Regions from separate parts of the Homo sapiens genome. Here region 1 is linked to region 2. The links come from fine-mapping of genetic effects on gene expression. A gene starts in region 2. The other region holds a variant in brackets. All regions are shown on one strand. Distances are from middle to middle.

Evidence for each region.
Region 1: its variant is fine-mapped to the expression of NFKBIZ in prostate (GTEx, PIP 0.98).

What each region holds. Positions count from the first base shown.
Region 1 is chr3:102,634,702-102,650,568 of GRCh38, forward strand. All of the region lies in intron 9 of LOC105374016 (a long non-coding RNA gene), which reads right to left. Among named protein-coding and RNA genes, the nearest start is that of ZPLD1, 210 kb to the left of the region's middle. The variant G/A (reference allele first, on the strand shown) is at 5,935.
Region 2 is chr3:101,839,817-101,855,683 of GRCh38, forward strand. It overlaps NFKBIZ (NFKB inhibitor zeta), which reads left to right and starts at 9,698. Exons shown (of 12, transcript NM_031419.4): 1 at 9,698-10,101; 2 at 12,269-12,408; 3 at 12,922-12,952; 4 at 13,070-13,173; 5 at 13,275-14,047; 6 at 14,762-14,867; 7 at 15,246-15,392; 8 at 15,579-15,642. The coding sequence starts at 9,813. RefSeq lists silencers at 2,809-3,103, 9,177-10,376, 9,425-9,596 and enhancers at 7,169-7,298, 8,757-9,594, 9,389-9,683.

The DNA.
Region 1 (15,867 bases), 790 kb after region 2:
TTTTTACTGATGTGATTATTAATACATAATTCTACTGACATAAGCAAATCAATAGCTTTAGAAATTATATATGGTTAACTTATGTTTATTGTACTTTATTGATATAAATGTATCAAGGTATAAATTTTCCTCTGAGTACTGCTTTATCTGTATTCCACAGATTCTAATATGTCATGTTTTTATTATTATGATTTTGTAGAAATTTGGCAATTTTGTATTGTGCTTAATAGAGTATTTAAAAATATATATAGGTAGAAGTCTTTTGTTTGATTTAGTTATAATTTCCAATTTTATTACATTGTGGTCAGATAATCCTATTTGCATGGATTCTATTTTCTTGAAAAAGTTACTGTCTCCTTTTAAGCTAATACTGGGTATTTTTACATAATAATTACATGTTCTTTGGGGAAAAAGTGATTTTTTAAATAATCAAGAATCACAGTTAAATGTATTTATGCAGCTTACTATTATGTATACTTCTTAGGTTTTCTGTATCATTTATGATATCCCAGTATTATTTTTTCTTTAATATTAGTGACATTAAATGTACCTAAACATATTGTACTTGTTTGTTAGCTTTAAGTAATCAACTTTCACTCTCCAATAATACCTATAAATCAATCTGCAAGGTTTATCTACTGCAAACTTTTTTCTCTCTTCTCCTCCCATTTTTATTACTTATATTTTTCTGCGTTGTGAGAGCATTTATTTCCTAATATTATTTTTTCATACTTATACACAACTTCTAATACTTGTGTCAGAGTTAAAAACATTTAATGCTCAAACACAAATCTTCAGTTGATTTTCTGAAATTATTCTGGGGTTGCCTGCAGCCTATTTTCTATTAAATTTCTCTGGTAAGATTCCTGGAATCAACAGTCTTGAGATATTGCTTGCAAGTTAATAAATGTCTATGGTCTTTATACCTGAAGGACAGGTTGACTGGATATAAAATATTTGACTTACATTTACTTCAGTAAAAATATTTTTGTTGAAAACTCTAATACAAATCCAACATTTTTCCTTATAAGTAACTTAATTTTTTTTTCCTGTGTGTTTAAAGAATGTCTTCCTTTATTTTAAAGACTAACAATTTTACTTAGTTTGGTCTCAGAGTTGCTCATTTGGGCTCTATTTTTGCAGGCGTATGTATGCCCTTTCTGTATGTAGTCTTCTCTTATTTCAGAAATTATTGCTCTGGCAACTCTTCAAATACGAACACACACTTGCATTATTATCTGACAACATAAAATACGTAGAAAAACCACAAATGGCATACCATTAAAAATCAGCCTATTACATATACCTTTCACAAAACTAGTTAAATCAGTGTTAAGATGAGGCTGGGAATCATATCATGTATCAAAGTGAACAGATACTGGAGTTAAACTGACTGCATTTAAATACTAATCCTGCTGATTTATTAGCTGTGCAGTCTTTGGCAAGTGTCTTAACCTCTCTCTGCGTCAATTGTATCATCTATAGAATGACCATAATAATGTATATCCCTTAATTTTTTTGTGAAATTAAATGAGACAATTCACATACAGTGCTTAAACACTGATAAGCATGATATCAAAATACAATAAGGGCCACAGATATTCATTTCCAGTCCGATTTTAATGAACTCTGTAGTTTATAGTCATCATATAATTTCAATCTTCCATTCTTTTTTAATCACAAAATCTTTTTGTATAAGAGGTATAGTGTAAGATACATGAAAGCACATAGGTCAAATAGAGGAAATGTTATCTTATCCTTGATTAACTGGGCTTAAATTCGTCTATTGATAACTTGTAAGATAGGAACCATATTTACATGGAGCTTTCTAATGCCCCATCTTTCCCAAGAGCCTCGCTTATTCTCTTGACCCGGGTATCTTGATTTTAACATTAAGAAACCAGGTTGAGCATTATCTTCTCCAGTGGACAATAACCTCTAAGTGTGTATTAGGAGCTCCCAGAATACCCTTTACTAACTTTAATTCTCATTGTATTCTATGATGACTTTGTGATAACATGGCTGTTTCTCCCAGAAATGAGTTAGGGGCAAAGAATGTGTTTTTAAACTTGTTTCCATAATACCTGTTTTGTGATTGAACAATATATTTTTGTCTGACTTACATTTTATGAAGAATGATTGTAAGGGTAAAATGGAAAAATATCAGTAAAGTTTTACTGAAAATGCATTAAGTGTAAAACATTTAACTGTTATAAATAATGGAACTCAACTTGAGAGATTTGAATGGAAGGAATTGTGCCATTCACAATCTAAACAGATTCACCACCGAAAGTAGAGAAATCAAGGGCATCCATTTCATTTTAATACTCCTTTTCAAATCAAACAAAATTGCTAGTACACCAAATAGATTTAAAAGATCTGAGTTACATTTTTAAGAGGCAAGCACATCTCTAAGTGTTGGTTTATCATGGTTTCATTTGCTTGAGAAGCCAACAATTGGCTGTTCATTTTACCTTCCTCTGTGATATGTATAAATATCCCAGAAAGCCCACAGCTTACTTTGAGCTCTCTCAGTGCCATCCAATTATAAATGCAATTGTAAATATCTCTGCTCTGTTAACAAAAATGCAGCATTACTTCTCCTATTAATGTAGAGTATAAACTTTCTATTAGTAATCTTATGCTTAAGATAAAAAGGAAAATATATGAAAGCATTGTGGATAAAGTTGAAAAGCTGTACAGATGGAAGGTATTAATGCCAAAATTGTGAAACTTATCCCTAGCATCTTCCACATTCCATTAGGATATTTTGCCCGTCTCGAACACATCTATTATCATTGTTATACTGATATTCTCTTAGACTGGAGAGATGAGTGTGGTATCTTAGAGAACAATTGGAAGATTGTAATAGTAGCAATTGCATTAGCTCCCACAATGGCTTTCTATTCCTTAATTAATAAAGTCAAGATTGCCTGTTTAAGAATTCAAGGATTATTTACACACTTTGAATATACATCTTATTTCTCTAATATAATATCTCTGCAAGATTCTGCTCTCAAATCTCAATCTCTAGTAAATGTTTATCCTTTCTTTAATACACAGCTCCATGATTCTTCTTCTCTTCTGGATTATGATTTTTCTATTTGAAAATTATTTCTATATTATTTCTTGTGTGAAAATTGCTTTTCACCATTTATTTATTAAACCTACATTTATGTAGGTTCCTGTATGTAATGCACAGTATTTAGTGCTGGGGATTCAATGGGCAAGTATAAATAATACATAGTCCCTGATTATCAAAGTGTTCTAGGGAAGCAATGAGCAGTCAATGGAAGCTAGGTTTTCTTCCATTTTTGGTATTGTACCAGACGTGCAAAGAATTTTACTCTTCACCGTCTCCCTGCCTCCACGCTACCTTCTTAAAAAACCTACATTTGCCCTCTTCTCAGAAAGCCTATACTCAGAGCAACAGCTATATAGTCAGTGGATCAGGTGACCCCAAAATGTAACCATTGGACCACAGGTATTCTCATGAGCCAAGCTAAGACAATACACTTCTCTTACCAGGACTTTTAAATTTGAACTTATAATTGATTGAGTTTTTGTTAGGACTTCAATTACCAGATGATAAAAAGCAGGAAACAGGAAACTTATATAGTCAGTCTCTGCTGTGTTAATGAAGAATCAGAGAAATAGCCACTATTGAAAGAGAGAGAAGGATAACTAGATTTACAGAGAGAAATAGAGAGGTGAAGAAACGAATTTGGTTCTCAACTGATTCTACTCTTTGAGAGGTTTGGCTATGTCTCTGGTATTCTTCTGATGCATTTTACAGTTTGTTTAAGTTAAATGAGTTTGTGTGCCTTACTATCAAATGGTAACTTGACAGACATTTATCAGTCAGTGGGAAGTAATAGACCCCTGGGAAAAATTGTAGAATATTAAGGATAGTGAAAATGTCATCATTTGAAGCAGAGGGATAGTCTTACTTGTCGACGATGAAACAATAAACTGGCCCTTGTATTTTCTTGGCACACACTAACACTGATTCTTTAAGAAAAGAGTTTTAAAGGAAAGATTTATGAACCCAAAGAAGAATATAACATTTCAAATATGAAAATGTCCTGTGAAAATCCCTATCTGTGTCTGAGATGTCTTAAATTCTGAAATTGCTGAAATTCAGATTAAGAAATTAGGTAAACGTTGTGTTTAATTGCAGCTGCTGAATTCTCTGACCCTTTGCACATCTGTGGCCAAGCTACATAGGTTAGCAAAGAGTAGGATTCTGACTTTTGGAATGGTATGAGGGAGAAGCTGGATGTGATGGAGGACCCCAATTTTACCAGGTTATTACATTCTATGTTCTTCTTGTGTATATTTCATGCTCAACAGAGTTGATAACATTTCCCAATGTAAATCACCTTCAGTGATTAGAATTCAGTATGAACCTTGAGGGTCTGGCATTCCCTGCATATCATGAGAACAAATTCTAGAGCAGTTCATTGTTTTTTGGCCTCTGTTCATTGTATCATTCATTCATTTATTAATTAATATCTTCATTGATCTGTCTTCTTTTGAGAATTTAATGGATTCTTAGCATTCTTTTGGGCATAGAGGATATAATAGTGAACAAAATAAGTTTCTCTTCACAGAGATTTTATTCTAACAGAATATTTCAGAAACATATATTCTTTGAAGGAAATAAAGTAATAGAAAGAAGTGATTGTGAAGGTGGAAGGATAGTACGAGTTATCTATAATGGTCAAGGAGGCTCTCCCTTGTAATGGGATAACTGAGCTGAGGCCCATATAATAAGAAAGGACCAACTGTGCACAAATTTGGGAAAAGGAGAAGAAACAGCAAATGTGAAGACCCTGAGACAGGAAATGTTTGGTGTGTTCAAGGGGCAGGAAAAAAATCCAGAAAGCTAGAGTCCAGCAAAAGATGATGAGCATTGTGAATAATGAGCTCAGGGACATTACAAAATTCAGATCATATATAGCCTTATAAACCATATTAAGGCATTTGGATTTTATGTCAGTTGTGATTGCAAATTGTAAACAGAGGAGTAATCTGAACTCATTTGAGCTTAATATTAAAAAGACACTTTATATGCCTTGAGGAAGAATAAATGAAGTGGGCCAAGGAAGGAACTAGGTTTTATGATGTTCTAGGACACATGAGAGTGGCTTGGGCTACAATGTGAATGCTGAAAAGTGACCAGGAGAACAGACTGGAGGTGCAGGGGAAGGACAGGGAAGTGACTGATGGCATTTAGGTTTGTGGCCTGAGCATCTGTGTAGACAATGGTGTCATAGATTGAGATTAGAAATTACAGGTTGAGTATCCCCTATTTGAAATACTTGGGACCAGAAGTGGTTTGGATTTTGAATTTATTTGGATTTTGGAACATTTACATTATACTTACAGTTATGCATTTCTAATTTTAAAATCCAAAATCCAAAATGAGCATTTATTTTCTTTGAGCATTATATCCACACTGACAAAGTTTTGGCTTTGGAATGTTTTGGATTTAAGATTTTCAGATTAGGATTGGGAGTACTCAACCTGCATGAAGGAAAGGCAGATCTGAAGGATGGGTATAGTTGTTCAGGACTTGGAATGCCTATTGGCAAGAGTAAATGTGGAAGAGGCAACTGGATTTATGGGTTTGGGGCTCATGGATGGACACATTTTGGGTACAGAAATAGATTTGGAGTCAGCAGCAAATAGATAATATTAAAAGCCAAAGGAAGAACTGGATGAAAACATTTAAGTGAGTGAAAATAAATGAGGGTGTCTAGGATTGTGCTTTCAGTAACTGAAGTGTTTATAGTCAGGAACAAAGGGAGAAGTCACAAAAAGACACTGTACAGTCAGAGAAGACCAGGAAAAAATTTATTTCAAGGAGTGAGTGGTCAATCTTGTCAAGTATTGCCAAGAGGCTGAGTAAGAAGAGAAGATAAAACTGAT[G/A]ATGTAACTAGACAATATCGATGCCATAGTGACCTGAATAAAGAAATTGAAGCCCAACTTGAGGGATCTTTAGGAGAGAAATATAGGTAGTAATTACAGACAAATAAATATTTTGAAGAATTTTTTTTACTGAAGAGTTGAAGAGAAATGCAGAGAAAAATCCAAGAAAGTTCTTATTTTAAAGGTACAATAAAGAAAAGTAAATTTGCATTCTGATGGGAATGATTCTTTTGACTATTGTAGAAATATATTCCTGTAAATATATTCCCATTATCATGGGAATGATTCAGGAGTGAGACAGAAACTGATGTTGCTGGAAGCGGGTAAATAATGGCAGAACAGAAGACCCTGAGTAGGAAAGAAAGGATAGGATCTGGAGCAGCACTGTTAAAAAAAAAGTATAATGTGAGCCACATAAGTAATTTAAAATTTTCTAGTAGCCACATTAAAAGCATAAAAAGAAACAGGTAAAATTAATTTTAAAATTTTAAATTTAACCTTAGATATCCAAAATATTCTCATTTCAACATGTATTATTATAAAATTATTGAGTTTTTTTACTGTTTGTATATTAAGTCTTTGAAATTTGGCATAAATTTTATGCTTACAGCAATATCAATTTGGATTAGTCATGTATAAAGTGCTCAACAGAGTGTAAATGGAGGGTTTGGCATGAGATAAAACGTATAGAAATTTCATTCATTGTAACACGAGGTAAGACAGAAATATATGTAAATGAACAGTGCTGTTTGGTGGTGGGAATAAGAGATGGCTGTCATCTGACTTTATGTTTTAAGTGATGTCTGAAGAAGTGTTAGACATTTTAATAGAAGACAAGAAATAGGTGTTGCAAAAATGGCTATTTTGTTTTCATTTTTTAATTTTTTAAAAATATTTTGTCAAGGACCCAATATGGAAAGAGGTAAAATGGCCATTTTGGAGAGTGGAAGGATGAATCTTTAGGGTTCATTACCTTCGAACATTGAAAATGGGTGTCCTAGTTCAAGTTTTTTCTCAGCCAAAGAAGCCTAGAAGGAATGAACAAATTTGACTACTTCATGGTGGTAACGTATCACAGAGCAGTAGAACCTATAAGATTTCTACCTGGAGACATCAGAAGAGAATTTACTGTCACAGAAAGAAATAAAAATCCAGGTACAGTTGACCCTTGAGTAACATGTGTGGATCCACTTATACACGGAATTTTTTCTACAAAACTTGGATGGAAACTGTGACATTCACTGGATGCAAAACCCATGTATACAGAGGGCCAACTTTTTATATACAGAGGGTCTGCAGGGACAACTGTAGGACTTGCGTATTCCTAGGTTTTGGTATATTGAGCTGGTTCTGGAACCAACCCCCTTGTATGCTGATGGACGACTGCCTAATGAACAGGGGCCAGTGCTTGAAATTGCCATCATACCCTCTCTATTTATCCCATATGTCCACTATGAGGCATAATAGAACCAGTTGGAAGAGTCTGCCAACCTTCCACTATGTGAACAGAAAAGTAGACGACACTTTAGAAAGAGTGAATGAAGCATACATAGAAAGAAGCAGAGATGAGAGACCAACAAACCTAGACAGGTTGAGAGTATAACTTTGGTTCCAGTTATTGGTTCTAATCCCTTTTCAGGTCTATTGCTTTTCTTGGTTTTGTGTTCTAAGACATAGCCCTTATCCTGCTACTATATAAATTACTCCCCTTTTTATTATACTTGTTTAGTGTTTTCTGTGACTTGCAGCTCTGCCTCCTTCATTGGTAGAGATAATAAGGTCCTGAATTTAATGTGGAGTTAGTGGGCTAGGTGTAAAGAATTACATCACAAGGGGCTGACTGAGGAGAAAGACCTGACAGTGGTCATGGAACAAAACACATTCATCATGACTATCTTTTTGTCTTATTTTAAAACCTACATACTTATTTACCCAACTTAGACATAATACTATTTTAGTACAAAGAGAATGTATCAAAGGCAAAATAAGAAAATAAAAATCACCAAAACTCCAATAAACAGTATTGACTACTCTTTTCTCTTTGGTGTATCATTTACTGAATTGGATACAAATATATCTTCTGTCCATAAATAGATTCTTTGTCCAAAAAATCAAAGAAGAGACTCTTTTGATTATTGTAGAAATATATTCTTGTAAAGAACTTTCCTCATTCTCCTTGCCTCCTTTACTCCATTCTACTTTTCTTTATTTCATCTCCCAAGGAAAGAGTTATTCAGCCTTTGTTCCCTGAACTTTCTTCGTTTTATTTTTTCAAAATACCATAGAGATGCTGACATGCTCTTGAAATATCAGTAAGAAATTCCATTTGGGCTCTTGCAATTGCTGGCCTGTATGGAGATAGGGCTGCTGCTGTCCGAGAGATTTCTAAACTAATCATACTTTTAATTTCTTCAAAATTGAGCAATGGTTTCTTGGGAACTCCTCTAATGCCTCAACTTAGAGATGGCCTCTGGAACTTGAGGCCAGCTCAACAAATCTGTCACTGTAATAACAACATCCTAAACAGAATCTTGGAAATGAAGGAAGCAAGCTTTGCAGCATTTACTTAGGGTTTCTGCAAAGGCTCTTCTTCTGGGTGAAATAATTACTCTGAGGCATTACCTACTAGCAAAACAGCATCCCAAGAAGCTGGAGTTAAATGCCAGAGACTTCTGAAAACAAAAGTAAGACAAGCCTCAATTTCAAAGTTCTTATTTTTGGCAGCTTCTGTAGTTACCTGATGGGAGAAGAAATTTTCCCCAGACTTAGCGCTGTGATGAGCATGGACTGTGAGATCAAGTCAATTTTCTGCTGCTACAGTGGGCTAAAATAACGCTACCTATTCACCAGCCTAGAGAGAAATTCGATTTTGTTTTTATTAAGCTGAAACTTCTCTTGATACTCACAGTGAGTCCATAGGGGAGCAGAAACACAACCTGTACCTGCTTCTTCAATTTAGGAAATCTTGCTGAATATGTAACAGGGCAATCGCGATGGGTTTTTACAGAAGCCACATACATACATATAAAGTCAGACATATTTTTCTCATATACCTCTTTCATCAGCCAGTTTTCTTACTCTCAATCTTGTCTGTACATCTGTCAAAACAGCACAATTTACACCAAATCATCTACATTTGTTTTCCATTTAGTAAAAATCCATCTACCTGCAGATGGTAGTTTATGGTGTGTATGTGGGATTCCTCTCACTCTGAGTGCATGTCTTACGTCTTCAAAAGATAATATATTAGCTGGAATTTATCGGGCATCTATGTATTTATTATATTGTCATAGAATGTTTCATGAGGTTAGGGACCATTTCTGCTTGTTCAACCCTGAACCATCAATACATGTTTTCACAAGTATTGACAGTTTGCCCATAGAAGGTGCTCCAAAAGTATGCATTAAATCAACAGACTACATGCACTCATGTGTTAAAACACTCTTGCTAAATAGGTATTATTGTCTTAATTTTGTAAGAGGGGAAAACAAGTCTCAGAAAAGTTAAGTAATCACTCAAAAGTCATACAATGAATAAGAAAAGAACTGGACTTCAAATTTAGTTTTATTCACCTCCTCCTTCCATCCCATCCTACCATACTTCTTCAAATACAGCTTTGATGTGGAAAACACCTATTTTTCTGACAGATTTCCATTGTTAATTGCATGTTTTATAGTTTTAAAGGGAGCCGAACACAAGCTATCTTTGCCATGCAAAAATCAGAGAGAATGAGATACTTGCTGATTTTTCTGACTTTATAAACAGACATGCACAGGCAGTTTTATGTTAATGTGTTAACTCAGTTGTTTTGGTTCAAGTTTGCTTTGGAAACTGAGTCAACTACTCCCTTTTACCCATGCTTCTCCAATAAGCCTCTCTTATTGCTTTACCCACCACATCTTACTATAAAGACCCACAAGGTGGCTATAAGAGTGGGAGATCTCAGTAAGTTTCCATAATTGTAACAGGGTTTGGCTTGCAGTGTCTTATGGAAGATAAGCTGAAAAACTCTTATCTTTTAATTAGCAAAAGCTAGTCTGATTATGGTTCCTTGTTCATTTTAAATTGATAAAAACTTTGCTATAAAAAAGTAGCAATAAAATACATGAAGACATCTAGCTATCAAAGACCACACCTCCATATAGTTATTATATCCCATATTTCTCTCTTGAATTCCTACATTCTTACATTTTAAATTCTGTTTCCCTTCAGGACATTTGGATCTCCCAGTATCACTTAAGTGTATCCTTCCTTTTTCTATTCCATCTCATTTCTGTGTTAGTTTTTGATTTGTGTATTTTTGCTAACCTATCTCCCTTCCCCTTTCTGGAATTCTTGTTTAAAAGGCACATTTAGTTCTCATTTCTTCTATATATATTTAATTTGCTGCTTGGAGAATATCTTTGGCAGGAAGAAACAGTTGTTGGCCATTTCTCCATTAACACTAAAAAATAACACCAATCTTGCCAGCAAAACACACACATGCACACACACACACACACACATATGCACAAACACACAGAGGTTTCATATGTAAAAGAGATATGCAGACATGTAGTATGGCTTATTTCTTAGGTATCTTGCTTTTTTTCTTTTTACATTTCCATTTTTGGCTACTACCAGCAAAAATGATTTTAAAAAATCATTATGTCATTTCTTTGCCTCCTGCTCTTCCTTTTTCTCTCAATTTTTTCATCTCTCTCGTTTTTCCTTATTTCTTCTCCCATTACACCTTAGACTGTCCAAAGTGGACAAATCATGTTAAAAGCATTAGGAGCTTTTAACTTGCATTCTATTTTTCCAGGAGCTAAGAAGAGAACTGCTTCCTGTTTGGGTATTTTCATTAAGGTGAACATGTCAAACTGAGAGAGAAATATTAATGGCAATAGTCTAATTTCTGTATGCCTGATGACAGGTTCTGATTTTATCCCATGTCTCCAGATAGCACCTTTTTTTTTTTTTTTGGCAAAGAGGATATGAGAGTGCTGAGATTATAAGGGCTAGAAAAATTAAATAACTTATTTGCTCATTTTATGAGTAGCATGAATATCAGTGCTTCTCACATTTGGCACCATGAATATTTTTGAATAACAATCCAAATACATTCAGCTGTTGGGTATTAGCTATGCCTGCTCAGGAATATTGCCAGCTGCAGGTTGGAGCAAAAACACTGAACTTGGAGTGCATCATATTATCCTGATGGAAAATCCACTCAACAGCAATTGACATAGTTGTTAGCAGAGATCCAAAGCCCTATTGAGAAGAGATTTAGGACATCTGGGGCTTCCTAGGTCTTTTCTTCAATTTGCCCTGTGTTTCAGTACACAAGAGTGTTTACATCGTGACTTCATATAAACCTTTCTCTCTGTACGTCTCATTTGGCACTTATTATATATTGCTTTATATTCTTTATACACCTATGCATTATGGGACATAAGTGCCCTATCTTTGAAATAACATAATGCAATTATTAAATTATCTCTATCTAGTGTCTTATACATCATATATTCTCAATGATAATGTTTAACGGTGAAGGCCATTCAATTTTGTCTCATTTTTCATTTGAGCTTCAGCTGTGTTTTCCCTTCTTACCCTTGCTTACAAATCTTTCTCTAATTTTGTCATAACTTTTTTCTTTGTTTAAATTTTTGGAAAATGTGAGTTTTAAGTCTGATTTTAAGGAGCTCAAGGGAAACTGATTACAATCTGGTGGCAACTGCTAATTGTGATTTGCAATGCAGTTTCGGGAATGATTTGGGTGGAAATGATGAAGAGCATGAAGCTGCGGGTCGAAGCAGTATGAGAAATAAAGTTAGATGGCTAAGGAGAGACAATTGACAATGGTATTGTTATCATCCTAATTTTATGAGGCAGGAAGCTAGAGACTATTCTTGCCTTTTCATAAATTTATTCCCATCTCTTTCAATGACCTGTCAATTTTACTTCTAAATATCTCTTGAATGTGTTCAGTTACCTTTATTTCTGCTACGCCTACTCCTGTCAAGAAATCCACATTATCTTTGTGGTCTCCTATAATGCCATACTAATTGCACCTCATTCATTTATTCTTTTAAATTTATTGTTCTTATTAAATTTGTTTTTAAATTTATTATTCTTATTAAATTTATTTTTAAATTTATTATTAAATTTATTATTCTTTTAAATTTCATTTAATTTCATTTAATAATTATTAAGCATCTGCCTAGGAAAACAATAATAAACAACAAAGACATTTTTCTGCCTTAACGAAGTATCTAGTATAGTTGGAGGAACAGTTTTTGATACAACTGAGCAAAATGTGATGAGTACCATGACATAGTAAACACTAGAGCTGGCCCCTTCCTGCAATGAGTTCTCACATCAAGGATGATTTCCTAAAAATACCAATATACATACCATTCCTGTGCTTACAAATGTTTCAGTGGCTCAGCATTGCCTTTCAGATGAATGCAGAACTTCTTAACATTGCCTTGAGACCCTCCATGTTCTGGCCTCTACTGACCTCTCTCTCTCTCTCTCTCTCTCGGAGAGATTATGCAATTCATTTTTAATTTTTTTATTAATGTATATTTACTACATATTATAAAATTAATGTAATATATTAAATACATTAATTTATGTTATATATATATTTTATTTTATTTTATTTTATTATTATACTTTAAGTTTTAGGGTACATGTGCACAATGTGCAGATTTTTTACATATGTATACATGTGCCATGTTGGTGTGCTGCACCCATTAACTTGTCATTTAGCATTAGGTATATCTCCTAATGCTATCCCTCCCCCCTCCCCCCACCCCACAACAGTCCCCAGAGTGTGATGTTCCCCTTCCTGTGTCCATGTGTTCTCACTGTTCAATTCCCAACTATGAGTGAGAACATGCGGTGTTTGGTTTTTTGTCCTTGTGATAGTTTGCTGAGAATGATGGTTTCCAGTTTCATCCATGTCCCTACAAAGGACACGAACTGTTCATTTTTTATGGCTGCATAGTATTCCATGGTGTATATGTGCCACATTTTCTTAATCCAGTCTATCATTGTTGGACATTTGGGTTGGTTCCAAGTCTTTGCTATTGTGAATAGTGCCGCAATAAACATACGTGTGCATGTGTCTTTATAGCAGCATGATTTATAATCCTTTGGGTATATACCCAGTAATGGGATGGCTGGGTCAAATGGTATTTCTAGTTCTAGATCCCTGAAGAATCGCCACACTGACTTCCACAATGGTTGAACTAGTTTACAGTCCCACCAACAGTGTAAAAGTGTTCCTAATTCTCCACATCCTCTCCAGCACCTGTTGTTTCCTGCCTTTTTAATGAATTTTTATTGTTTTTTAAATTGATGCATATGCTTACCTCTCTTGCCTGTCCTTATCTCTGCACACTTTTCTTTTAGGTTCTCTCTCTTATTGAGCAATTTCTCACATCAAGGTCTTTTCAAGTGCTCTCCTCTCTTTCTGCAAGTCTCCCCTATACCCCTCTTCACTGCAGCCTTTCTTAAGTCTCAGTTTAGATTTTCTTTTCCCTGGAAAATATTCCCTGAACTCCCTTCTAGGATTGGAGACTCTGTAGTCTGCTGCAGTAGCAACCCATATTACCCTATAATAGTACTTGCATTTCATAGTAAAAGCTTGTTTAATGTTCAGTCTATCCTGCTAGACCCTAAGTTCCGTGTCTGTTCAATTTAGTTGTATCCTGACAAGGATTCTTTGCTTGGTCAAACTTTAGTCAGGCACCTGAATCTTCTCCTAAGCCCACCTGTGCATTTCCTTAAAAAATCTAGTTTTAGCAAATAACTTTGCTTAGTTTAGTTAGAATCCTTTATCCCCGATTATCTGATCACACTCAATGTCTAATCAAATTCTTTATCCTCCCCCATCACCCAATGGATCATCCTGGTCTGTCTTCAGCAAGAATCCTGTTAGGTTGGTTTAGCCAGAATCTCCCTTGCCTCTCATGTTTCCTCTTAGTAATTTCACATCCACTAACCCCCACCCTGCTACTTGGCTACAAATTCCAACTTGACTGTGCTATATTTGAAGTTGAGTCTGGTCTCTCTCTCTCTCAGTGCAAAATTCCATTGCTGTGGTTCCTATACCTATTGTGAGGTTCCTGTATAAAGTCTGCCTTAACAATCCTGAGGGACTTGGAAAGTGCCCACACCAAGTGCAAAACAAATAAATAAATCCATCTGATTTAGCCTCATTGTTATTTGTCCATTTTTCCTCCTACAGGTCTCTCAAATTAGTCCCTTCCTTTCATCCTTTTCTCCCTCTTTGGATCAGGCTTCAATTATTACAAGTCTCCAAGCCACTCGTTTTATCTTTAATATGGCTTCACTTAACCATTGTACATGTTTTGGCCAGAGTAATCTCACCAAGAGGCAAATATGATCATACTGTTCCATTGCTTTAAGGAAGCATTTGAGTCTTCCTATTGCCAAGAGCATAAATCACCAAATTACTGAATACCATTATTGGCCCTCTAATTTTTCCCCTGTAGTTCTCTGATCTTGATCTTTTATGCTATTTCATGCCACTTTGCTTTTGGGCATTCTGTTCCCTCTAACTAGAATGCTTTTTTTAAAAATCAATCTTTACTCAAATGTCTGGTTGGGAATTTTCTATTCATCTCAAAGAACTTTCCCAACTATATCCTCTTCTCCTGAGAAGTTCCTTCCGTGCTAAGGAAAGTTGGTTGTTCCTTCCTTTGTGCTACTAGTGTACATTGCACATATCTCTATTAAGATAATTTCTGGCTGTCATTTGAAACATTCATATAGCTTTTTGATTCTTCTACTGGGCTACCATTTTATTCTTGGCACCTAGTATTTCTACTAAATGAAAAAAAAAAATTGGAATACAAAGCAAATTGCTGTAACTGCTATCATACAGTTAGAGATAAAGTATATTATATATGCATTATCTACCACACTGTATTAGGGTTGTCTAGAGGGACAGATCTAATAGGGTAGATGCATATATAAAGGGGAGTTTGTTAAGGAGTATTGACTCACGCAATCACAAGGTGAGGTCTCACAATAGGCCGTCTGCAAGCTGAGGAGCAAGGAATCCAGTCCAAGTCCCAGTGCTGAAGAACGGAGACCAATGTTCGAGGGCAGGAAGCATCCAGCACAGGAGAAAGATGTAGGCCAGGAGACTAAACCAGTCTAATCTTTCTACTTTCTTCTGCCTGCTTTTGTTCTGGCCATGCTGGCAGCTGATTAGATGGTACCCACCCAGATTGAGGGTGGGTCTGCCTTTCCCAGTCCGCTGAGTCAAATGTTAATCTCCTTTGGCAACACCCTCACAGACACACCCAGGAACAATACTTTGCATCTTTCAATCCAATCAAGTTGACACTCAATATTAACCATCACACACACCTTTGGCAAAAGACAATTCTTGCAGTTAAAGTTACTAGAACAGAAGGGTCCCAGAGGCTCAGATGTTGTCAGTCTGTTACCTATGACTAAATAATGTTGTTCATGCAATTTTCCCACCTCCCACCTTTGTGATAGAGATTTGTTGGTAAGCTCACAACTCTGGTAAAGCCTTCCTTGCCCACCTTTACAAATATACTTCTGGCAGTTCAGTGGGCCTGGGAACACCTTCTATAGCTTCTCCTTCTCTAGAAGTTGTAATAATAACAGTTGTTATTATAGGAACTCACCTAGATACTCATGGTAACTATATGTAATTCCTGATATTAAGATCAAGCAAAATAAGCAAACAAGAAAGTGTGCTAACAGCATGTACCTCCTCTGAAATCAGTGTCAGGATGGGCATAGGTTTTAATTTCCTTAATCGTATGATGAATATACTATCTGCTGATACTCATGCACATCCCTGCCAGGAGGAAGGCCCAAACAAAAGATGGTTTGTCACCGTTATCCTCAGCAATATTTACACAGGATTAATCACATTTG
Region 2 (15,867 bases):
GTTATCATTTATTTGTAGTACAATGTAAATTAGCTTATTAGTTTTCTTCCTGAAAACTGAGATCCTTTCCCAGAGCATGTACATTTTTTACAGTAGAAGGGTACAGGGATGGGTAATTTTGAACTATGTATTACTGTCTAGAATCTGCGGATTTGTGTAGGAAAGAGTGTCACAAAGAAGAATGGAGAGGAAAAAAGGAGGGAGAAAGGGGAGTTGGGATTAGAAGATACTTTTTGGTCCTTCACCATTCTGTTTTAAGGCAGTTCAGATTTTAGTGTCCTTTAAAGCAGGCAAGAGTTGACAGTATTCCCACATTCAGTGTTTAGGAGGATGCTTTCATTCATATGTGTGGAAATGAAACTTTTGGAGTTGTCAACAAGTCAGAGAAAGCAGAAGAAGCCATGGAACTTGTAATGCTCTCTGCCTTTTTGGACAAAGCTCACCTACTTCATTTTTACCTCTTGGTGTCTATAGTGGGTAAAGTTCATCATTATAAATAGAAACCAGAAAACACTCTCATGAGCTAAGAACCATTTACAGGGTGAAAGTTAGGAAAGTGCACTTGTTTCATGTGGATGTTTTGTGTGAGTTTTGATTATTACTATTAGAAAGTGTGGTACACAGGTAGCCCTTCAGACTAACACCAAACATCACTCCTTCATATATATGATTTTGTATGAACCATATGCATTTTATAGTATGTGGATATTTTCTGAAATCAAATGGAAGAACTTTTCATTTCTTTAGAAATGAAATGTTAAAGGGGAAGAAAAATTTGTTTTGTTTTCAGTTTAAACACTTGGATTTCTGCTGGGCTAGAAAGATGGGATGCTGCAAAGGTATTTCAGGGTACTGTAGCATTGCTGTGATTCAGGGTCTGTTTATAAGGCATCTGTTTATTGGGATGTTCAACTGTGTGACCTGACTTTGTGCAAGGTGCCTCTCTGGCTGCCCATCAGGGGACAGACCTTGTGTACCTGCTGGAAAGCAGTGGAGTTACTTTACATAGTGGACGACTCACTCACACCTAGTGGGTGCTCAGAAAATATTTGTGAAGAGGACAAAGTGGTATATGGCATCTCCTTTGATGCTTTCATATAAAAGGAAGTTGCAGAGAGATGACTCCGGGGACACTATTAATTTTGTCTTCACACAATCAGTCCATAATATGCAAAGTTGTACATACTATACATACAGTACTTAACGGGGTATCAAGTTTATTCTCTTAGCACTGAGCAGGATGTTCTGAGATGTGCAAACCTTTTGCTAATTCATCTGTATGATGATTAGGTTACTGGTTGGAGAAATTTCCTCAATATGGTATACTGTGCTTTGATATCAGGTGCTAATAATTTGCTGCAAACAGGACCTAGAGAATTACTTTTAAAGACAACCTTTTGATCTTTCCAGATTAAAACATACAAAAGAATAGGTTACACTCTTGTAAGGAAAAAGCTTACAGAACTTACTAACTACAGCTGTCTGTGCCATAGCCTGGTTGGTCAGGTGGCCTATTGGGAAGTATATAAGTGCCAGTAGAACTGAGTTCATATGTCTCAGAAGTAGTAATTGTTTCTATTACATGGATACCATATGGACCAGAATGTTCATACAGCCAGGTATAAGCTCCACAAAGACAGAGATTAGTGTTTGTCTGAGGTACCGCTGTGCCCCAGTACTTAGAAAAGTACCTGACATTTATAAAGCACTACCATATTGAAGAATAACTAGAATTTGAAAATATGTGGTCTGATTTACTCATCTGCATTAGAAAAATCTGTTAGAATACCCTGAAGTTTAAATGTTTCTTGAGATGTTGAAGTATGTTTTACATTGCTATGGGGATAATAAATTATTATTTTTAAGGAAAAGCATTCAACAAATCAACATATAAGATGATATCTGTTTTGAAAGCTCCTGAAAGATTTTATGTTCTTTACAAAGAATTCTGGGCAAAAGGCAGCTGGGTTTTTATATTTACAAGATAGATGAAAATAGTTTTATAATAATCCAAGTGCAGAGAATGAGGAGATTCTAATTCAAGGGGCCAAAGTATTTGTTTTGATGTCTGTACGGTATTGACATAAAATAATTTTGGAAGCATTTCCACTTGTTTCTACCATCCAGTTAAATATGTACCAAGTAACTACCTACTAAGTAACAGGTACTTGGCTATTGACAAGGGATACATGTCTTGGGAGCTTATAGTGGAATAGAGGAGACAGACTCATAAATGGTTAATTTTAGCACATCCTAAGAGCTATGATAGAAGTCTGTGTGGGGACTGAGAGGAAAGGCCCTTAGTCCAGAAGTGGGGTTGAGAGTTGGGGTCAGGGGAGGAAGGGAGGGTCAGGAAAGGCTCCAGAAGTGTTGGATATTAAGTGAGTCTTGAGTGAGTGTTGGGTATTAAGTGAGCATGAGATTTTGGTTGAGGAAGAGGAGAGAAGAACAGCAAGAGCAAAGTCTCAGAGCTGTGGGAAACTATACTCAGTTTCGTGTTACTGAAGGTAATGAGGAAGATGAAGCTTGTGAGGAAGGCAGGACTTGGACATCTGTCATTCTAAGAAGACTGGACTCCATGCTAAAAGCAGTAGAGAGCCACTGAAGGATTTTTAAATAGTGTAGAGCAAGCTTGTCCAACCTGTGGCCCATGGGCTGCATGTGGCCCAGGATGGCTTTGAATGTGGCCCAACACAAATTCATAAACTCTCTTAAAACATTATGAGATTCTTTTGTGATGTTTTTTCTTTTTCTTTTTTCATTTTCTTTTCTTTTCTTTTTTTTTTTTTTTTAGCTCTTCAGCTGCCATTAGTGTTAGTGTATTTTATGTGTGGCCCAAGACAATTCTTCTTCCAGTGTGGCCCAGGGAAGCCAAAAGATTGAACACCCCTGGTGTGGAGGAATTCTTAGAAGAATTCCTGGCATTCCAGCATTCCATTGGTATGCCGATGGCAGTCTGGAGGATGGGTTTTAAGTGGGCAAGGCTGGATGGGTGATCATTTGCATCAAGTAAGAGATAAAGGCCTGTCTTGGATAGTGGAAATTAGAGATGGAGAAGAGAGGAGGGTTTCAGAACCAGGTGTTCAACAATTATGAGTCCAATCTGGAACTTTTGAGTTGACTGATAGGACATTGCCTACATTCGATCCCTAAAAATTATTTAAATCTGTACTTACTAATTTATTTTTAAAAACTGTATTTTCTAAAAAAAAAAAAAAAAAAAAAAAAAAAACTTCATGCAAACAGTATTGTTTCACATCTTTGCAAATTTCTTAACATCCGGTTTTACAGAAGACAGATTTTCATATTTGCTTCTGCATTTAATTTGTTGCAGTTGACCAGGTGCAGGGGTTTACGCCTGTAATCCTAGTGACTTGGGAGGCTGAGGTGGGAGGATCACTTGAAGCCAGGAGTTCCAGACAAGCCTAGGCAACACAGCCAGACCCCATCTCTACAAAACATGAAAAATAAAAAAAATTAGCCAGGCCTGGTGGGGCATGCCTGTAGTCCTAGCTACTGGGGAGACTGAGGTGGGAGGAGAGACTGAGCCCAGGAGTTAGAGGTTACAATGAGCTATAATCATGCCATTGCACTCCAGCCTGAGTGACAGAGTGAAACCCTGTCTCTTAAAAAAGAAACATGTGTCACAATATCTTATGTTGGTGAAAGTATAAAGAAAATCTGGTCTCATACACAAATGTAGTTGGTAAAGGAAGAAATAGCTTAATAGTCTTTTCAGGTAATTTGGATATTCTAATTTAATATTATACCAAAACAAGTGGTAGTTCCTTAAAGGAGAGATGCAAGATGGAACCTGAAACCATATCAATGAACTTTTTATCTTCTGATGCATTAAAATCCATTGGCCACATCTTCTGATACATTAAAATCCATTGGCCACTTTGAATGGCTCTTTCACCCATGTGTGATTTTATAATGTCTTGCATTGTTCATTTGGAAATTATTAGTTAATTGAGTTATGCAAATTTTCTAAATGTTGCCACATTTCATTATATAATATAAAAAAATCACATTTGTTAATAGCGCATCATCACTGGGCTCATCAAAAAAGTCTTCTAGAACTAGGAAGCTATCAAGCTCAAGGTGTCCAACAGAAGTTTCCCAAAATTGTAATTTTTATTGAAAAACTTGAATTTTATTATTGGCAACAAATACTGTTATTTTCCTTAACATGACAGGCTCACTTTGTTCATTAAAACACAAAACCAAACCAAACCAAAAACTGACAAATACCTGAGTCTGAAACAGTTTGTCAGTCAAGTATAATTGGTGTTCCATGAAAAACAGAGGGCAGTTCAGCTCACAACTCAAACAGTATTTGATTAGAACAAATGGCAATGACATACTGTTCAAGCTAATAGACAAGTGCATTTCCTTGAGACAATTGTCATATTTCAGGATGCAGCACAAACTTCTATGCATATTTCCCATCTTGCCACATAAAATATTAAAATGATGTATACAAGAGTCAATTAATATTGTTACTGCTTCATCCAGGACTTTTTAGGTGAAACTGGCTTTTATTCTTTTTCTTTCTGCAAGTAGACAGTGGTGAAGAATACAATGATTACTAGTTCATTTTGTTGCTGCTGCCTTGATTTGTTTTAAGGCACCATTAGTTATACCCATTGCTTTTGTACCATCATTTCAAATGTAAACACAATTGTTTCAGGATAAATGATGAGATTCGAAAAGTTATTGTACATTTTGAATGTTTCAGCATTCCTTGTGTTTGTTGTCATGCATTAAAATAAAACACCTTTGATGACTGGCCGGTGCTGGAAATGAATATAACCGAAATAGCAAGTCCAGACAGTCCATAGATCTATCCATTTCTAAGGCAAAAGTGCAATTTTGCAGACAAAACCAGTTTGCAGTTAAGTCTTTAATTCAGTGAGCTGCTGCATTGTTGCAAAGTGGCAGTGCTGTGATTTCTTTTGCTGACTTTTCATCTAGAAAATATTCAGCAAAATAAACTCTACCAGGCTTTATTGGTCTTTCACCTATGATGTTCATTTCTTCAGCCAAAGCAGTACAATAACTTATCCTGTAAGATACTGGCTTTTTCATCTCAAGTTTGAAAAGCTGTTCCAAATTGTCTTTGGCTTTTCAAAAGTTCATTACATCTACACTTAAAAATCCAATTCTGGCCGGGCACGGTGGCTCACGCCTGTAATCTCAGCACTTTGGGAGGCTGAGGAGTGGGGGATCATGAGATCAGGAGATTGAGACCATCCTGGCTGACACGGTGAAACCCCGTCTCTATTAAAAATACAAAAAATTAGCCGGGCGTGGTGGCGGGCACCTGTAGTCCCAGCTACTCGGGAGGCTAAGGCAGGAGAATGGCGTGAACCCGGGAGGCGGAGCTTGTGGTGATCCAAGATCGTGCCACTGCAGTCCAGCCTGGGTGACAGAGCGAGACTCTGTCTCAAAAAAAGAAAAAAAAAATCCAATTCCTTTTTTTTTTTTTTTTTGAGACAAGGTCTTGCTCTGTCACCCAGGCTGGAGTGCAGTTGTATGATCATAGCCTACTGCAGCCTTGACTTCTTGGGCTCAAGTGATCCTCCCACTTCGGCCTCCCAAGTAGCTGGGACCACAGGCATGTGCCACCATGCCCAGCTAATTTTTAAATTTTTTATTTTATGTAGAGATGGGGTCTCATTATATTGCCCAGACTGGTCTTGAACTTCTGGGCTCAAGCAATACTTCCTGCCATGGCCTCCCAAATTGCTGGGATTACAGGCGTGAGCCACTGCACCCAGCCCAGCCCTCAATTCCTTTTTTGAAACTCTGGATTATTGGTCTCAAGATAGTGTTACAATGTTAATTGACACCATAAAACTAAAAAATGTTCTATTGCATAAGATACAATAAGGTAAATTATTAACATTTATAAAGCCTGGGGAAAGATAGCGTTCTCATATTTTTATTTCTTCTTTACAGTTTCTTCCAGTAGCTTTGGATTAGATTTCTCCCCTCTATGAGTTGTCACAGAACTCTCTGATGTATCATTTCATCTTTTTCAGTATCTTTAGATGTAGACAGTACCTCTGAGCCTGGAGTAAATGAATCCTCTAATCTCGTTTTTTAAAGCAAAAGATGAGGCTTCAGAGTCAGTTAGATGAAGATTTCAATCTCTTCTTTGCTTTCGATGGAGCAGTGTAACTGGACAAATTCTCAAGGCCCCATATTTCGTATACAGTTTTTGTGCATCAGAAATCTCTTGAGTGTTTTTGAGGGTTCTGGTTCAAAGTGTCTCGTAAGACTATAGTCAAGATGTTGGCCAGAGCTGCAGTCATCTGAAGGCCCGATGTGCAGCTGGAGAATCTACTTTCAAAGTAGCTCACTCACATGGCGGGCATATTGGTGCTGGCTGTTGGCCTCAGTTGACTTTTCCAGACAGTGTCCTCGTAACATGGTGGCTGTCTCCCACAGCATGAGTGTTCAACCATATTTGATTAGAACAATGGCAGCATCCTATCATTCGACTTAATAGATCAAACTGAATTTGTATTTCAACATTTACATAAAGCAAAGTACATTTAAATTTTTTTGTAGCGATATTAACTGTTTTTGATGTGTATGGGAGGGCTTCTGGGCATTGGGGGTTGTGGTCTTGTCAAACAGTACTATTGCTTTGGCATTGCACAGAAAACTTCGTTTTGAAACATTAGTCTTTTGTTGACCATCTTGGTCTAGATTAAGTTCTCCAGAGGCCATGAATTTGTGGCTTGAATTTTCATATCTCATGTAAAATGGGAAGATAATTAATTAAAACAGGAGGATAATTAATTTTGTAAAAAATTACTTTCTACGGATTTATTTGAATGGGCATTTAAATCCTTTATTATACATAAAATATTGGTGGGTAGAAAACAAAATTCAAATAGATTTTATTGAGAAACTCTAATGTATTAGGGTTCTCCAGAGAAACAGAACCAATAGGGTACATATAAATATGTAGAAAGAGATTTATTATGAAGGATTGGCTCACACAATTATGCAGGCCAACAAGTCCCACCATCTGCCATCCATAAGCTGAAGAACCAGAAGAGCTGGTGATGCAGTTCTAGGTCAAGCCTGAAGGCCTGAGAACCAGGTGAGCTGGTGGTGTAAGTCCTAGTCAGAGTCTGAAGGCCCAAGAACCAGGAGTGCTGATGTCTAAGGGTAGGAAAGGATGGATGTCCCAGCTCAAGAAGATAGCTTCAGGCTTTTTGTTCTATTCTGGCCCTCAGTGGATTGCAGAATGCCTGCCCGCATTGGCGAAGGGGGATCTTACTTTACTCTGTCTACTGATTCAAATGCAAATATCTGCCAGAAACACTCTCACAGACATACCCCAAAATGATGTTGTACCAGCTGCCTGGGCATGCCTTAATCCAGTCGAATTGACACATCAAATTAACCATCACACTCAACATCTTATTTGGAGCATCTTTTAAATGATTTTGGTTTCCAAGGAATTGCAATTACTGAAGTCTTGTGTTTTCCACAGATAAACCAAGGGATTTGTTTTCTTTTTTATTTTTTAAAGTTATCAAAAAGTTGGAGGGAGAGGCAGCAAGAAGTTTTAGGGAAATACACTTGTGAGAAACAAGGAAATACAGTCATGCATTGCTTAACGATGCTACATTCTGAGAAATGTGTCGTTAAGTGATTTTGTCGTTGTTTGAACATTATGGAATGCACTTGCACAAACCTAGATAGTCTAGCCTGCTAGTCACCTAGGCTCTGTGGTATAGTCTATTGCTCCTGGTCTATAAACCTGCACAGCATGTTACTGTACTGAATACTGTAGGCAACTGTAACACAGAGGTATTTGTCTATCTAAACATATGGAAACATAGAAAAGAAACAGTAAAAATATGGTATTACAGTCTTACAGGACCACCATTGTACATGGAGTTCATTATTGACTTAAACATCATTTTGTGGGGTATGGCTGTATTTACTTTGGACCTACCCCCACCAGGGTCTTATGCCACCTACTAATACTGAGTAACAATCCAAACTCATCGTGTCCCCCCCTTCGTCCTAAAACCCAAACATTCTGCTCTGTGATCCCTTGTGATCTGGAGCTGGTGGCCCTGTTCACCTGGTCGTGGCTCCAAGCCATGGCCTGACTGGGGACCCTTTCATTTCTCCCCCCCTCCAAAAGAGCGAGACCTGTGGGTTCTGCCCTAGCAATGCTGCCCAGCTCTGCTTTCTGTCAATTTACTTTCTCCTTTCCCACTGTATCTGCCCCAGTGCCCAGTCATTTCTCTCCTGGGCTACTGCAGTGGATCCTAATGGCCTCTGGGCTCCTCATCTTCTCTCAACTGCTTGCAGATTAATTTTGCCTACCTAAAATTCATGTTTTCTCAATGTTTATTAAATAAAATTCCAGTGTCTCAGCTGCTGGAGGTGCTCCACCCAAAGGCACCAAGTTATCTTTTATATTTAATGCCATCTTCTCCTCTTGACAATCGTAAAAGGGGACTATACACTCTAATATGAACCCTCTCCTTAATTCTTTGCTCTTGTTCTTTCTGTAAATGCTGTGGGCCCCAATCCCACCCATCCTTTAGGACCTATCTTAAATGCCACCACCCCTGCAAAGATTTTCCTCCTGACCTCCTTTTTCCTCTACCAGACCTGTTGTTTCTCCTTTTAGGTGGCTCACTGAACTTTGTATCCCTCGTGTTATTTAATCATAATCGGTTTATTTAAACATAGCATGTGTGTACTTAACCTTATCATTCCCGCATTTTTTGCTAGTTGGACTTGAACAAATAGTTGTATAAATCCATTGGAAAAAAGTATTCAAGATAGGAAAGGCCAAAATTACTGTGTTAGTTTATCAGATAGTGTAAAGCTATGCAGAATTTTAAAAGTTATATCTACATATACTACAGCACCTACATGTTTGTGTATTATTTTGCTAAGATGGCTTTGTTCTAGTATTGAAGGATACAGAAGTGTGGCATTACTTTTTATTCATGGCTGCACCTAAAACATTATTTGCGTCCCAGCAGATAATTTGAGAACATAAAAATGCTCCAACATCTCTTTCAGTTCGGGATGTTGCCTAAAACCGTCGACAAACGCTATGTTTGAGAAGGGAGGCTACGCTGGGGCGCCGGAGGAGACAGGCCCTTAAGAACCTTCCAGAGATGCCTTAACTGGGCTAACAGCTCGCCGCGCCGGGGCAGGCAGAGGGGTGCGGGGCGCGCTCCTTCCAGGACTTGCCAGTCCCCAAGAACCAGGCCAACCGGTTCCCTCCACTGACTCCCGCCTCCCTCTGCAGGCCCAGCCCTGCGCCGCGCGCCCTCTCCCCGGGCGCCCAGGCCCGGCGGGGGCCTAGAGGGCAGGGATGGCCCGGGCGAGGGACGGGGTCCCGGAGGCGGGAGGCGGGAGGCGGGAGGCGGGAAGCGGGAGGCTGGAAGCCGCGCGCTGTCGGGGTTTCCCGGTGAAGGGCAGGCAAACAACCGGTCGGTCTGGGCGGAGCCGGGCGGGCGGGGCGAGGGCGGAGGGCGGAGGGCGCATTGCCTCATCCTGTACATTTTACTGGAAATCGGACGCATCCGGAGGAGGGGCTGGGAGGCGGCCCGGGCACCGCCAATGGCCGGGCCGGGCGCCGGGGAGGTCGGCGAGCGCTGCGGCCCGTTAAATACCCTGGCAGTCCCGCGCCGCGCCCGTACTGGCCCGCGCCGTCCGCCCGCCGACAGCTCCCTGAGCCAGCCCGGGAGGCAGCCGCGCGCAGCGAGCCGGTGGCGCAGGTGTCGGGGTCCTCGAGCGCCCAGCCTGGGAGCATGATTGTGGACAAGCTGCTGGACGACAGCCGCGGCGGAGAGGGGCTGCGGGACGCGGCGGGCGGCTGCGGCCTCATGACCAGCCCGCTCAACCTGAGCTACTTCTACGGCGCGTCGCCGCCCGCCGCCGCCCCGGGCGCCTGCGACGCCAGCTGCTCGGTCTTGGGCCCCTCGGCGCCCGGCTCGCCCGGCTCCGACTCCTCCGACTTCTCCTCTGCCTCGTCGGTGTCCTCCTGCGGCGCCGTGGAGTCCCGGTCGAGAGGCGGCGCCCGCGCCGAGCGCCAGCCAGGTACCCGCCGGCCCCGCACCGCTGCGTACTCGGGGCGCGCACGCCTAGGAGGTTGGGAGCGGGACTCCCCAGATGGAGGGTGGCCCCTGCGCCCTCCTTAGAGCTAGGACGTACGCACCTTAGCCATCAATTACCACTCCCCGCCTTGCCCGGGCCGGGCGCCTGCCTGACCTACACGCCCTTCGCCGGCCCGCGGAACCGGCTCCCTCCCGCGGGCCTCGGGGGGGCTTCAGAAACCGCTCGGCCGAGCTCTGACTGCCGGGCGAGTGACCAGGAGATCGCTCGCTCTCTAAGAAGCAGCTTTGTTGAGTCATAATTAATAAACTATGATGAGATTTGGGGTCTGATGTAGGTGTAATTTTCTTCTTGTGAATATTTTAGTGGAAAGCTGTAGCAGAGGATAAGGGTTTGGGAATAGCGTTAAAGGTCATGACTTATTTCTCAGTTTTTATGGAATTTTTCAGTAAAAAGACTTGACCGTCAAAGAAAAGGAAACTGCTGTTATCAAGGTGAAGCCGGGCTGAAAACCAACTCAAGTTATGCCTTTAGTTTGGCGAGTTTCGGAAGTCTGCCCGGAATTTTTGCGGTCTTGTTTTTGTTGTGTGTGCCTTAAAAAAAATGGATAAGCCATATCTAGCAGAGAAAGACGTAATGTTATCTTTCATGGGCTGCGAATTGGTTTCCTTTCTTAGTGAACCGAGTTGCATAATTTGGGGGAAAACAGGATGCCCCTGTGGGTAGGCTAGAAAAACGCCTCGATAATTGAACGTTGAGAGTAATTAGCATGATTTTAAAGAACGTCTCTTTCCGGTGTTTCCCACTCTTAGCCACTCCTGTTTTGGTTGTCATTTATTTTAAAAAGTGATATCTCATTTTCATTTTAAGTCATTTAAAATCATGCGAAAAGCGATTTAAACCACTGCGTAGCAGATCCAGAAAGAATATGTGTTTAGGACCTTTTCTTACCCACTTGGCCTTCATCTGGCTGAAACTGTTCTGCTGGTCCCTTGGTTTACCACACAGCCACAGGGGATTTCTGAAACTGCATTTTTTTCTTTCTGTGACGTTGGATTATGAACTGCTGTCATTCCAGAAAAATGCTGTGTTAGATTCTGGCAATTCTGGTATCTCTTGAAATCCCTAAACTTAAAAATAAAGCCAACTAATGTTTCACTTACCCTATCATTGAACTGTTTATCTCATGTATTTATGATAGATACAGATGTTCAAATTATGCGTTGTTTCTTGCCCCATCTTATTTTTGTACACTTGATGGAGCGGCTGAATTATTCATTTCCTGACTTTGTGAATTTGTGTTCAACACACATACTAAGAGGTTGTGACATAATAGTGATCAGAAGTGGAGTACTGTACTTGTATACCAAATGCTAAAGTGTATTTCAAAGTTTAAAAGTGAAACAAGCATATTTCCTTTTTACTTAGAAGACCTGTGTAAGTAATTCCAAAAACAGTCAATGAGGGGAAATCCTGTGTGCATATGTAGAAATGTGTTTAAGCTCAGTGAATTTAAGCAGCTTTTTTGGCACAGTTGAATTGAAGGAAATAATAAGACATAAATCTAAGACGTTGTTAATTGTCAGGTTTTCGTACATAGAGATCTTTGAAAGAAGTTGTTTTGTGCCTTCTTAGGTAAGCGGAATTGATAGACTTTAAAATTTCTATGTGAACATAAAACCATTGGTTTAAAAAGCTAAAAGTGCATCATTTATCACTTGCTCCCCAAAGTTTTTCCAAAGTCAAGAATAATTATAGAACTATGAGAGTCAGGATGGCAAAATCTGTCATCCATTCTCATGGGTGGTTAGGGCTGAGAAAAAAATGTGATCCACTCTCATGGGTGGTTAGAGCTGAGAGATAGAGAGGCTTAATTTGGGTTTACCTATTGGCTCTGAGGATCCTTGACCAAATTTTTATGAACTTTAATTTCTTAGGGTACCCAGTGGAGAAAGGTATCAGGCAACTTAGGACCTTTGAGCAGAGCTCGGGACTCACAAGGCCATTGATTGACCAGAGCAAGTTGGAAAGGTTTTGCAATGTGCTGCTTGGGGACTTTATACATTAGGCAACAGCTATACTTTTGGGATTATTAACGTTTATGTCTGTGAAGATATTTAACCAGGAATATGTTTTGTTTTCTTTTGAACAGTTGAGCCCCATATGGGGGTTGGCAGGCAGCAGAGAGGCCCCTTTCAAGGTGTTCGGGTAAAGAACTCAGTGAAGGAACTCCTGTTGCACATCCGAAGTCATAAACAGAAGGCTTCTGGCCAAGCTGTGGATGATTTTAAGGTGACATCTATTTTTCTGTTTTGAGTATAGAGTTGGGGAGAGGGGTTAGTCTGTCAGGGTTATTATGATGACCTAGGTCCAGTCATCAAGTAAGTCACTTGAAATTTTTCATAAGATGACAAAGTCCATAGGACAGAGACCATATTTGTCTGGTCTGTTGTATCCTCCTTAGCCCAGTGCCAGACACCTGGTAGGTGGGCAAGAGAAACTCAATGAATAAATAAATGAAGGCAAGTTCAGAGGCTCAACTGAAATGGAACATTTTAACTAGAAAGGGAAAAATCAAATGGTCTTATTAATTTCATCTTGACCTGCGTTGAGCTAAGGTGAAAGTGAAAATGAGGAAGTCGCAAGATAGAATAAAAATTGATATAGAAAATCAATATTGATAGAAAAACCATATCAGAGATTTATGGTAAGCTATAAAGGGTGGTAGAGATAAGCCTACTTACTGATGTATATTAAGAGGAAGTCATTTTGTATACACTAAATTGGAAACTTTTTTCTTTATAGACACAAGGTGTGAACATAGAACAGTTCAGAGGTAAGAGTTACTTGTATTTGTAATTTTTTCAGGGCTTTGGAGTAAATAATAGAGTGTAATTATGGGTAACATTTATAAAATAAAATGATGACAGAGGCTGTATTCCTTTGGGTACAGAATTGAAGAACACAGTATCATACAGTGGGAAAAGGAAAGGGCCCGATTCGTTGTCTGATGGACCTGCTTGCAAAAGGCCAGCTCTGTTGCATTCCCAATTTTTGGTAAGTATCTCACCATTTTCCTCTGACTATCCTTTGGAAATTATTCCTGGGATAATTTTAGAAGGAAGTGAGTGTGCAAGTTGCATTTTCCTTCTTTCCAGACACCACCTCAAACACCAACGCCCGGGGAGAGCATGGAAGATGTTCATCTCAATGAACCCAAACAGGAGAGCAGTGCTGATCTGCTTCAGAACATTATCAACATTAAGAATGAATGCAGCCCCGTTTCCCTGAACACAGTTCAAGTTAGCTGGCTGAACCCCGTGGTGGTCCCTCAGAGCTCCCCCGCAGAGCAGTGTCAGGACTTCCATGGAGGGCAGGTCTTTTCTCCACCTCAGAAATGCCAACCATTCCAAGTCAGGGGCTCCCAACAAATGATAGACCAGGCTTCCCTGTACCAGTATTCTCCACAGAACCAGCATGTAGAGCAGCAGCCACACTACACCCACAAACCAACTCTGGAATACAGTCCTTTTCCCATACCTCCCCAGTCCCCCGCTTATGAACCAAACCTCTTTGATGGTCCAGAATCACAGTTTTGCCCAAACCAAAGCTTAGTTTCCCTTCTTGGTGATCAAAGGGAATCTGAGAATATTGCTAATCCCATGCAGACTTCCTCCAGTGTTCAGCAGCAAAATGATGCTCACTTGCACAGCTTCAGCATGATGCCCAGCAGCGCCTGTGAGGCCATGGTGGGGCACGAGATGGCCTCTGACTCTTCAAACACTTCACTGCCATTCTCAAACATGGGAAATCCAATGAACACCACACAGTTAGGGAAATCACTTTTTCAGTGGCAGGTGGAGCAGGAAGAAAGCAAATTGGCAAATATTTCCCAAGACCAGTTTCTTTCAAAGGATGCAGATGGTGACACGTGAGTATTCTTTTATCTCATGTTCTTAATTAGGTAAGCCACACTTGTTGGACTAGTGAGCATATAATTTTTCTAGGGTATAACAAGGTATACCTTAGTTAGTGGTTGGCTAACCAAGATGACTGGTGTAGATAGAAACCGCCACTCAGTGATAGCTAGTATGTCAAGAAAGGGTTTTCCTTCAAAAAATTTTTTGGCTGAACAGATAATCTGTTCTAAATTGATAAAAATATCTGTATCTTCTTGATTAATTGAGTTTGGAAGACCAGCGTAGACTATGTCTATAGAACAGAAACAGTTAGATCATGATTAGGGATAAACTGTGAGTTGGTTTGTAGATTGATCTTAATCTGTCCTGATGTCTTTGTGGCCTTGGGCAAGTTATTTAACCTCCTTAGGTCTCAGTTCCTTGACGTGTAAAATGATAATACCTCTTGTATAGGGGTTTTATGAGTATTAAAAATAATAGATTTAAGTTGATCAGTATGGTGCTTGACATTCTTCTTTTTCTTATTTCTGATAGCCTAACCCATCCTGTTCCAACTGGGGTGTATTATCAATGTAGCAGAAAAGACAAATTATGCTTTGTAATGTTTCATTTGAGTGTACCAATATATAAAAAGGGGGCTAAAGGAAGATTTTTTTTTTTTTTTCAAAAGAACAACTTAGTGAAATCAGAAGTGATTCACCCGCTTTCCTTTCCATGTTCCCCAGGTTCCTTCATATTGCTGTTGCCCAAGGGAGAAGGGCACTTTCCTATGTTCTTGCAAGAAAGATGAATGCACTTCACATGCTGGATATTAAAGAGCACAATGGACAGGTGAGGACCTTGACAGAGTCTGAAATGGCAAAGAGGGGGTCATGGTGAAGTGAATGATGACCAGCCTTATGTGTAGATCATCTTAGAGCTCAAGATCAAGAGAGTTTAGTTAATATTAACTTTGAGATGTTGACTTTTTGCTACCATCAACCTTGAAGTTATTAATGTTAACTTTGTAGCTGTTTGACCAAACACTGAGAGTAATAAAGCCACACCCTAGGCTTACTTTAGTTTCCTTGTCTTACAGTATCTGATTGCTTATTCAAAGGATTTATTTTCTCTCTGTGGGTTTTTCCCTCAGTCATAGTTTAGTTTCATATTCCTTGTTATGATAACATTGTATGTTTAAAATATCTTTTTTCCTCTGGATATCCACAGAGTGCCTTTCAGGTGGCAGTGGCTGCCAATCAGCATCTCATTGTGCAGGATCTGGTGAACATCGGGGCACAGGTGAACACCACAGACTGCTGGGGAAGAACACCTCTGCATGTGTGTGCTGAGAAGGGCCACTCCCAGGTGCTTCAGGTAAGAGGCAGCAAACCAGGCTTCCATCATTGCAAGGCCAGAGAGATAGAGTTGGATATTAGAAGTCGGATATAGGTTGCCTGTTGCAATGATCTATTTTGAGTTAACTTATTCATTTCTTGGGGATTCTAATAGGTATATGCGCAGCTTATGTAGCTAACAGATGTCTGTTTTTAAAATCTGCAGGCGATTCAGAAGGGAGCAGTGGGAAGTAATCAGTTTGTGGATCTTGAGGCAACTAACTATGATGGTAAGCAACTGAAACTTTATTAGATTCAGAGCCACTTAGGGGGAACCATAAGGTCTAAGGGTGCTAAGTATACTAAGAAGGAAGGTAATTAAAGCTAAAATATTCTGTAGGTAAAATTAGACCCAAAAAGAGACAATATTCAGATTGCCTTACTAGTTCTTGTGGAGCCCATTTATAGGTTAAGTTAGAGGCCATCCTCAGCATTTGTCATTATAGAAGGACCAA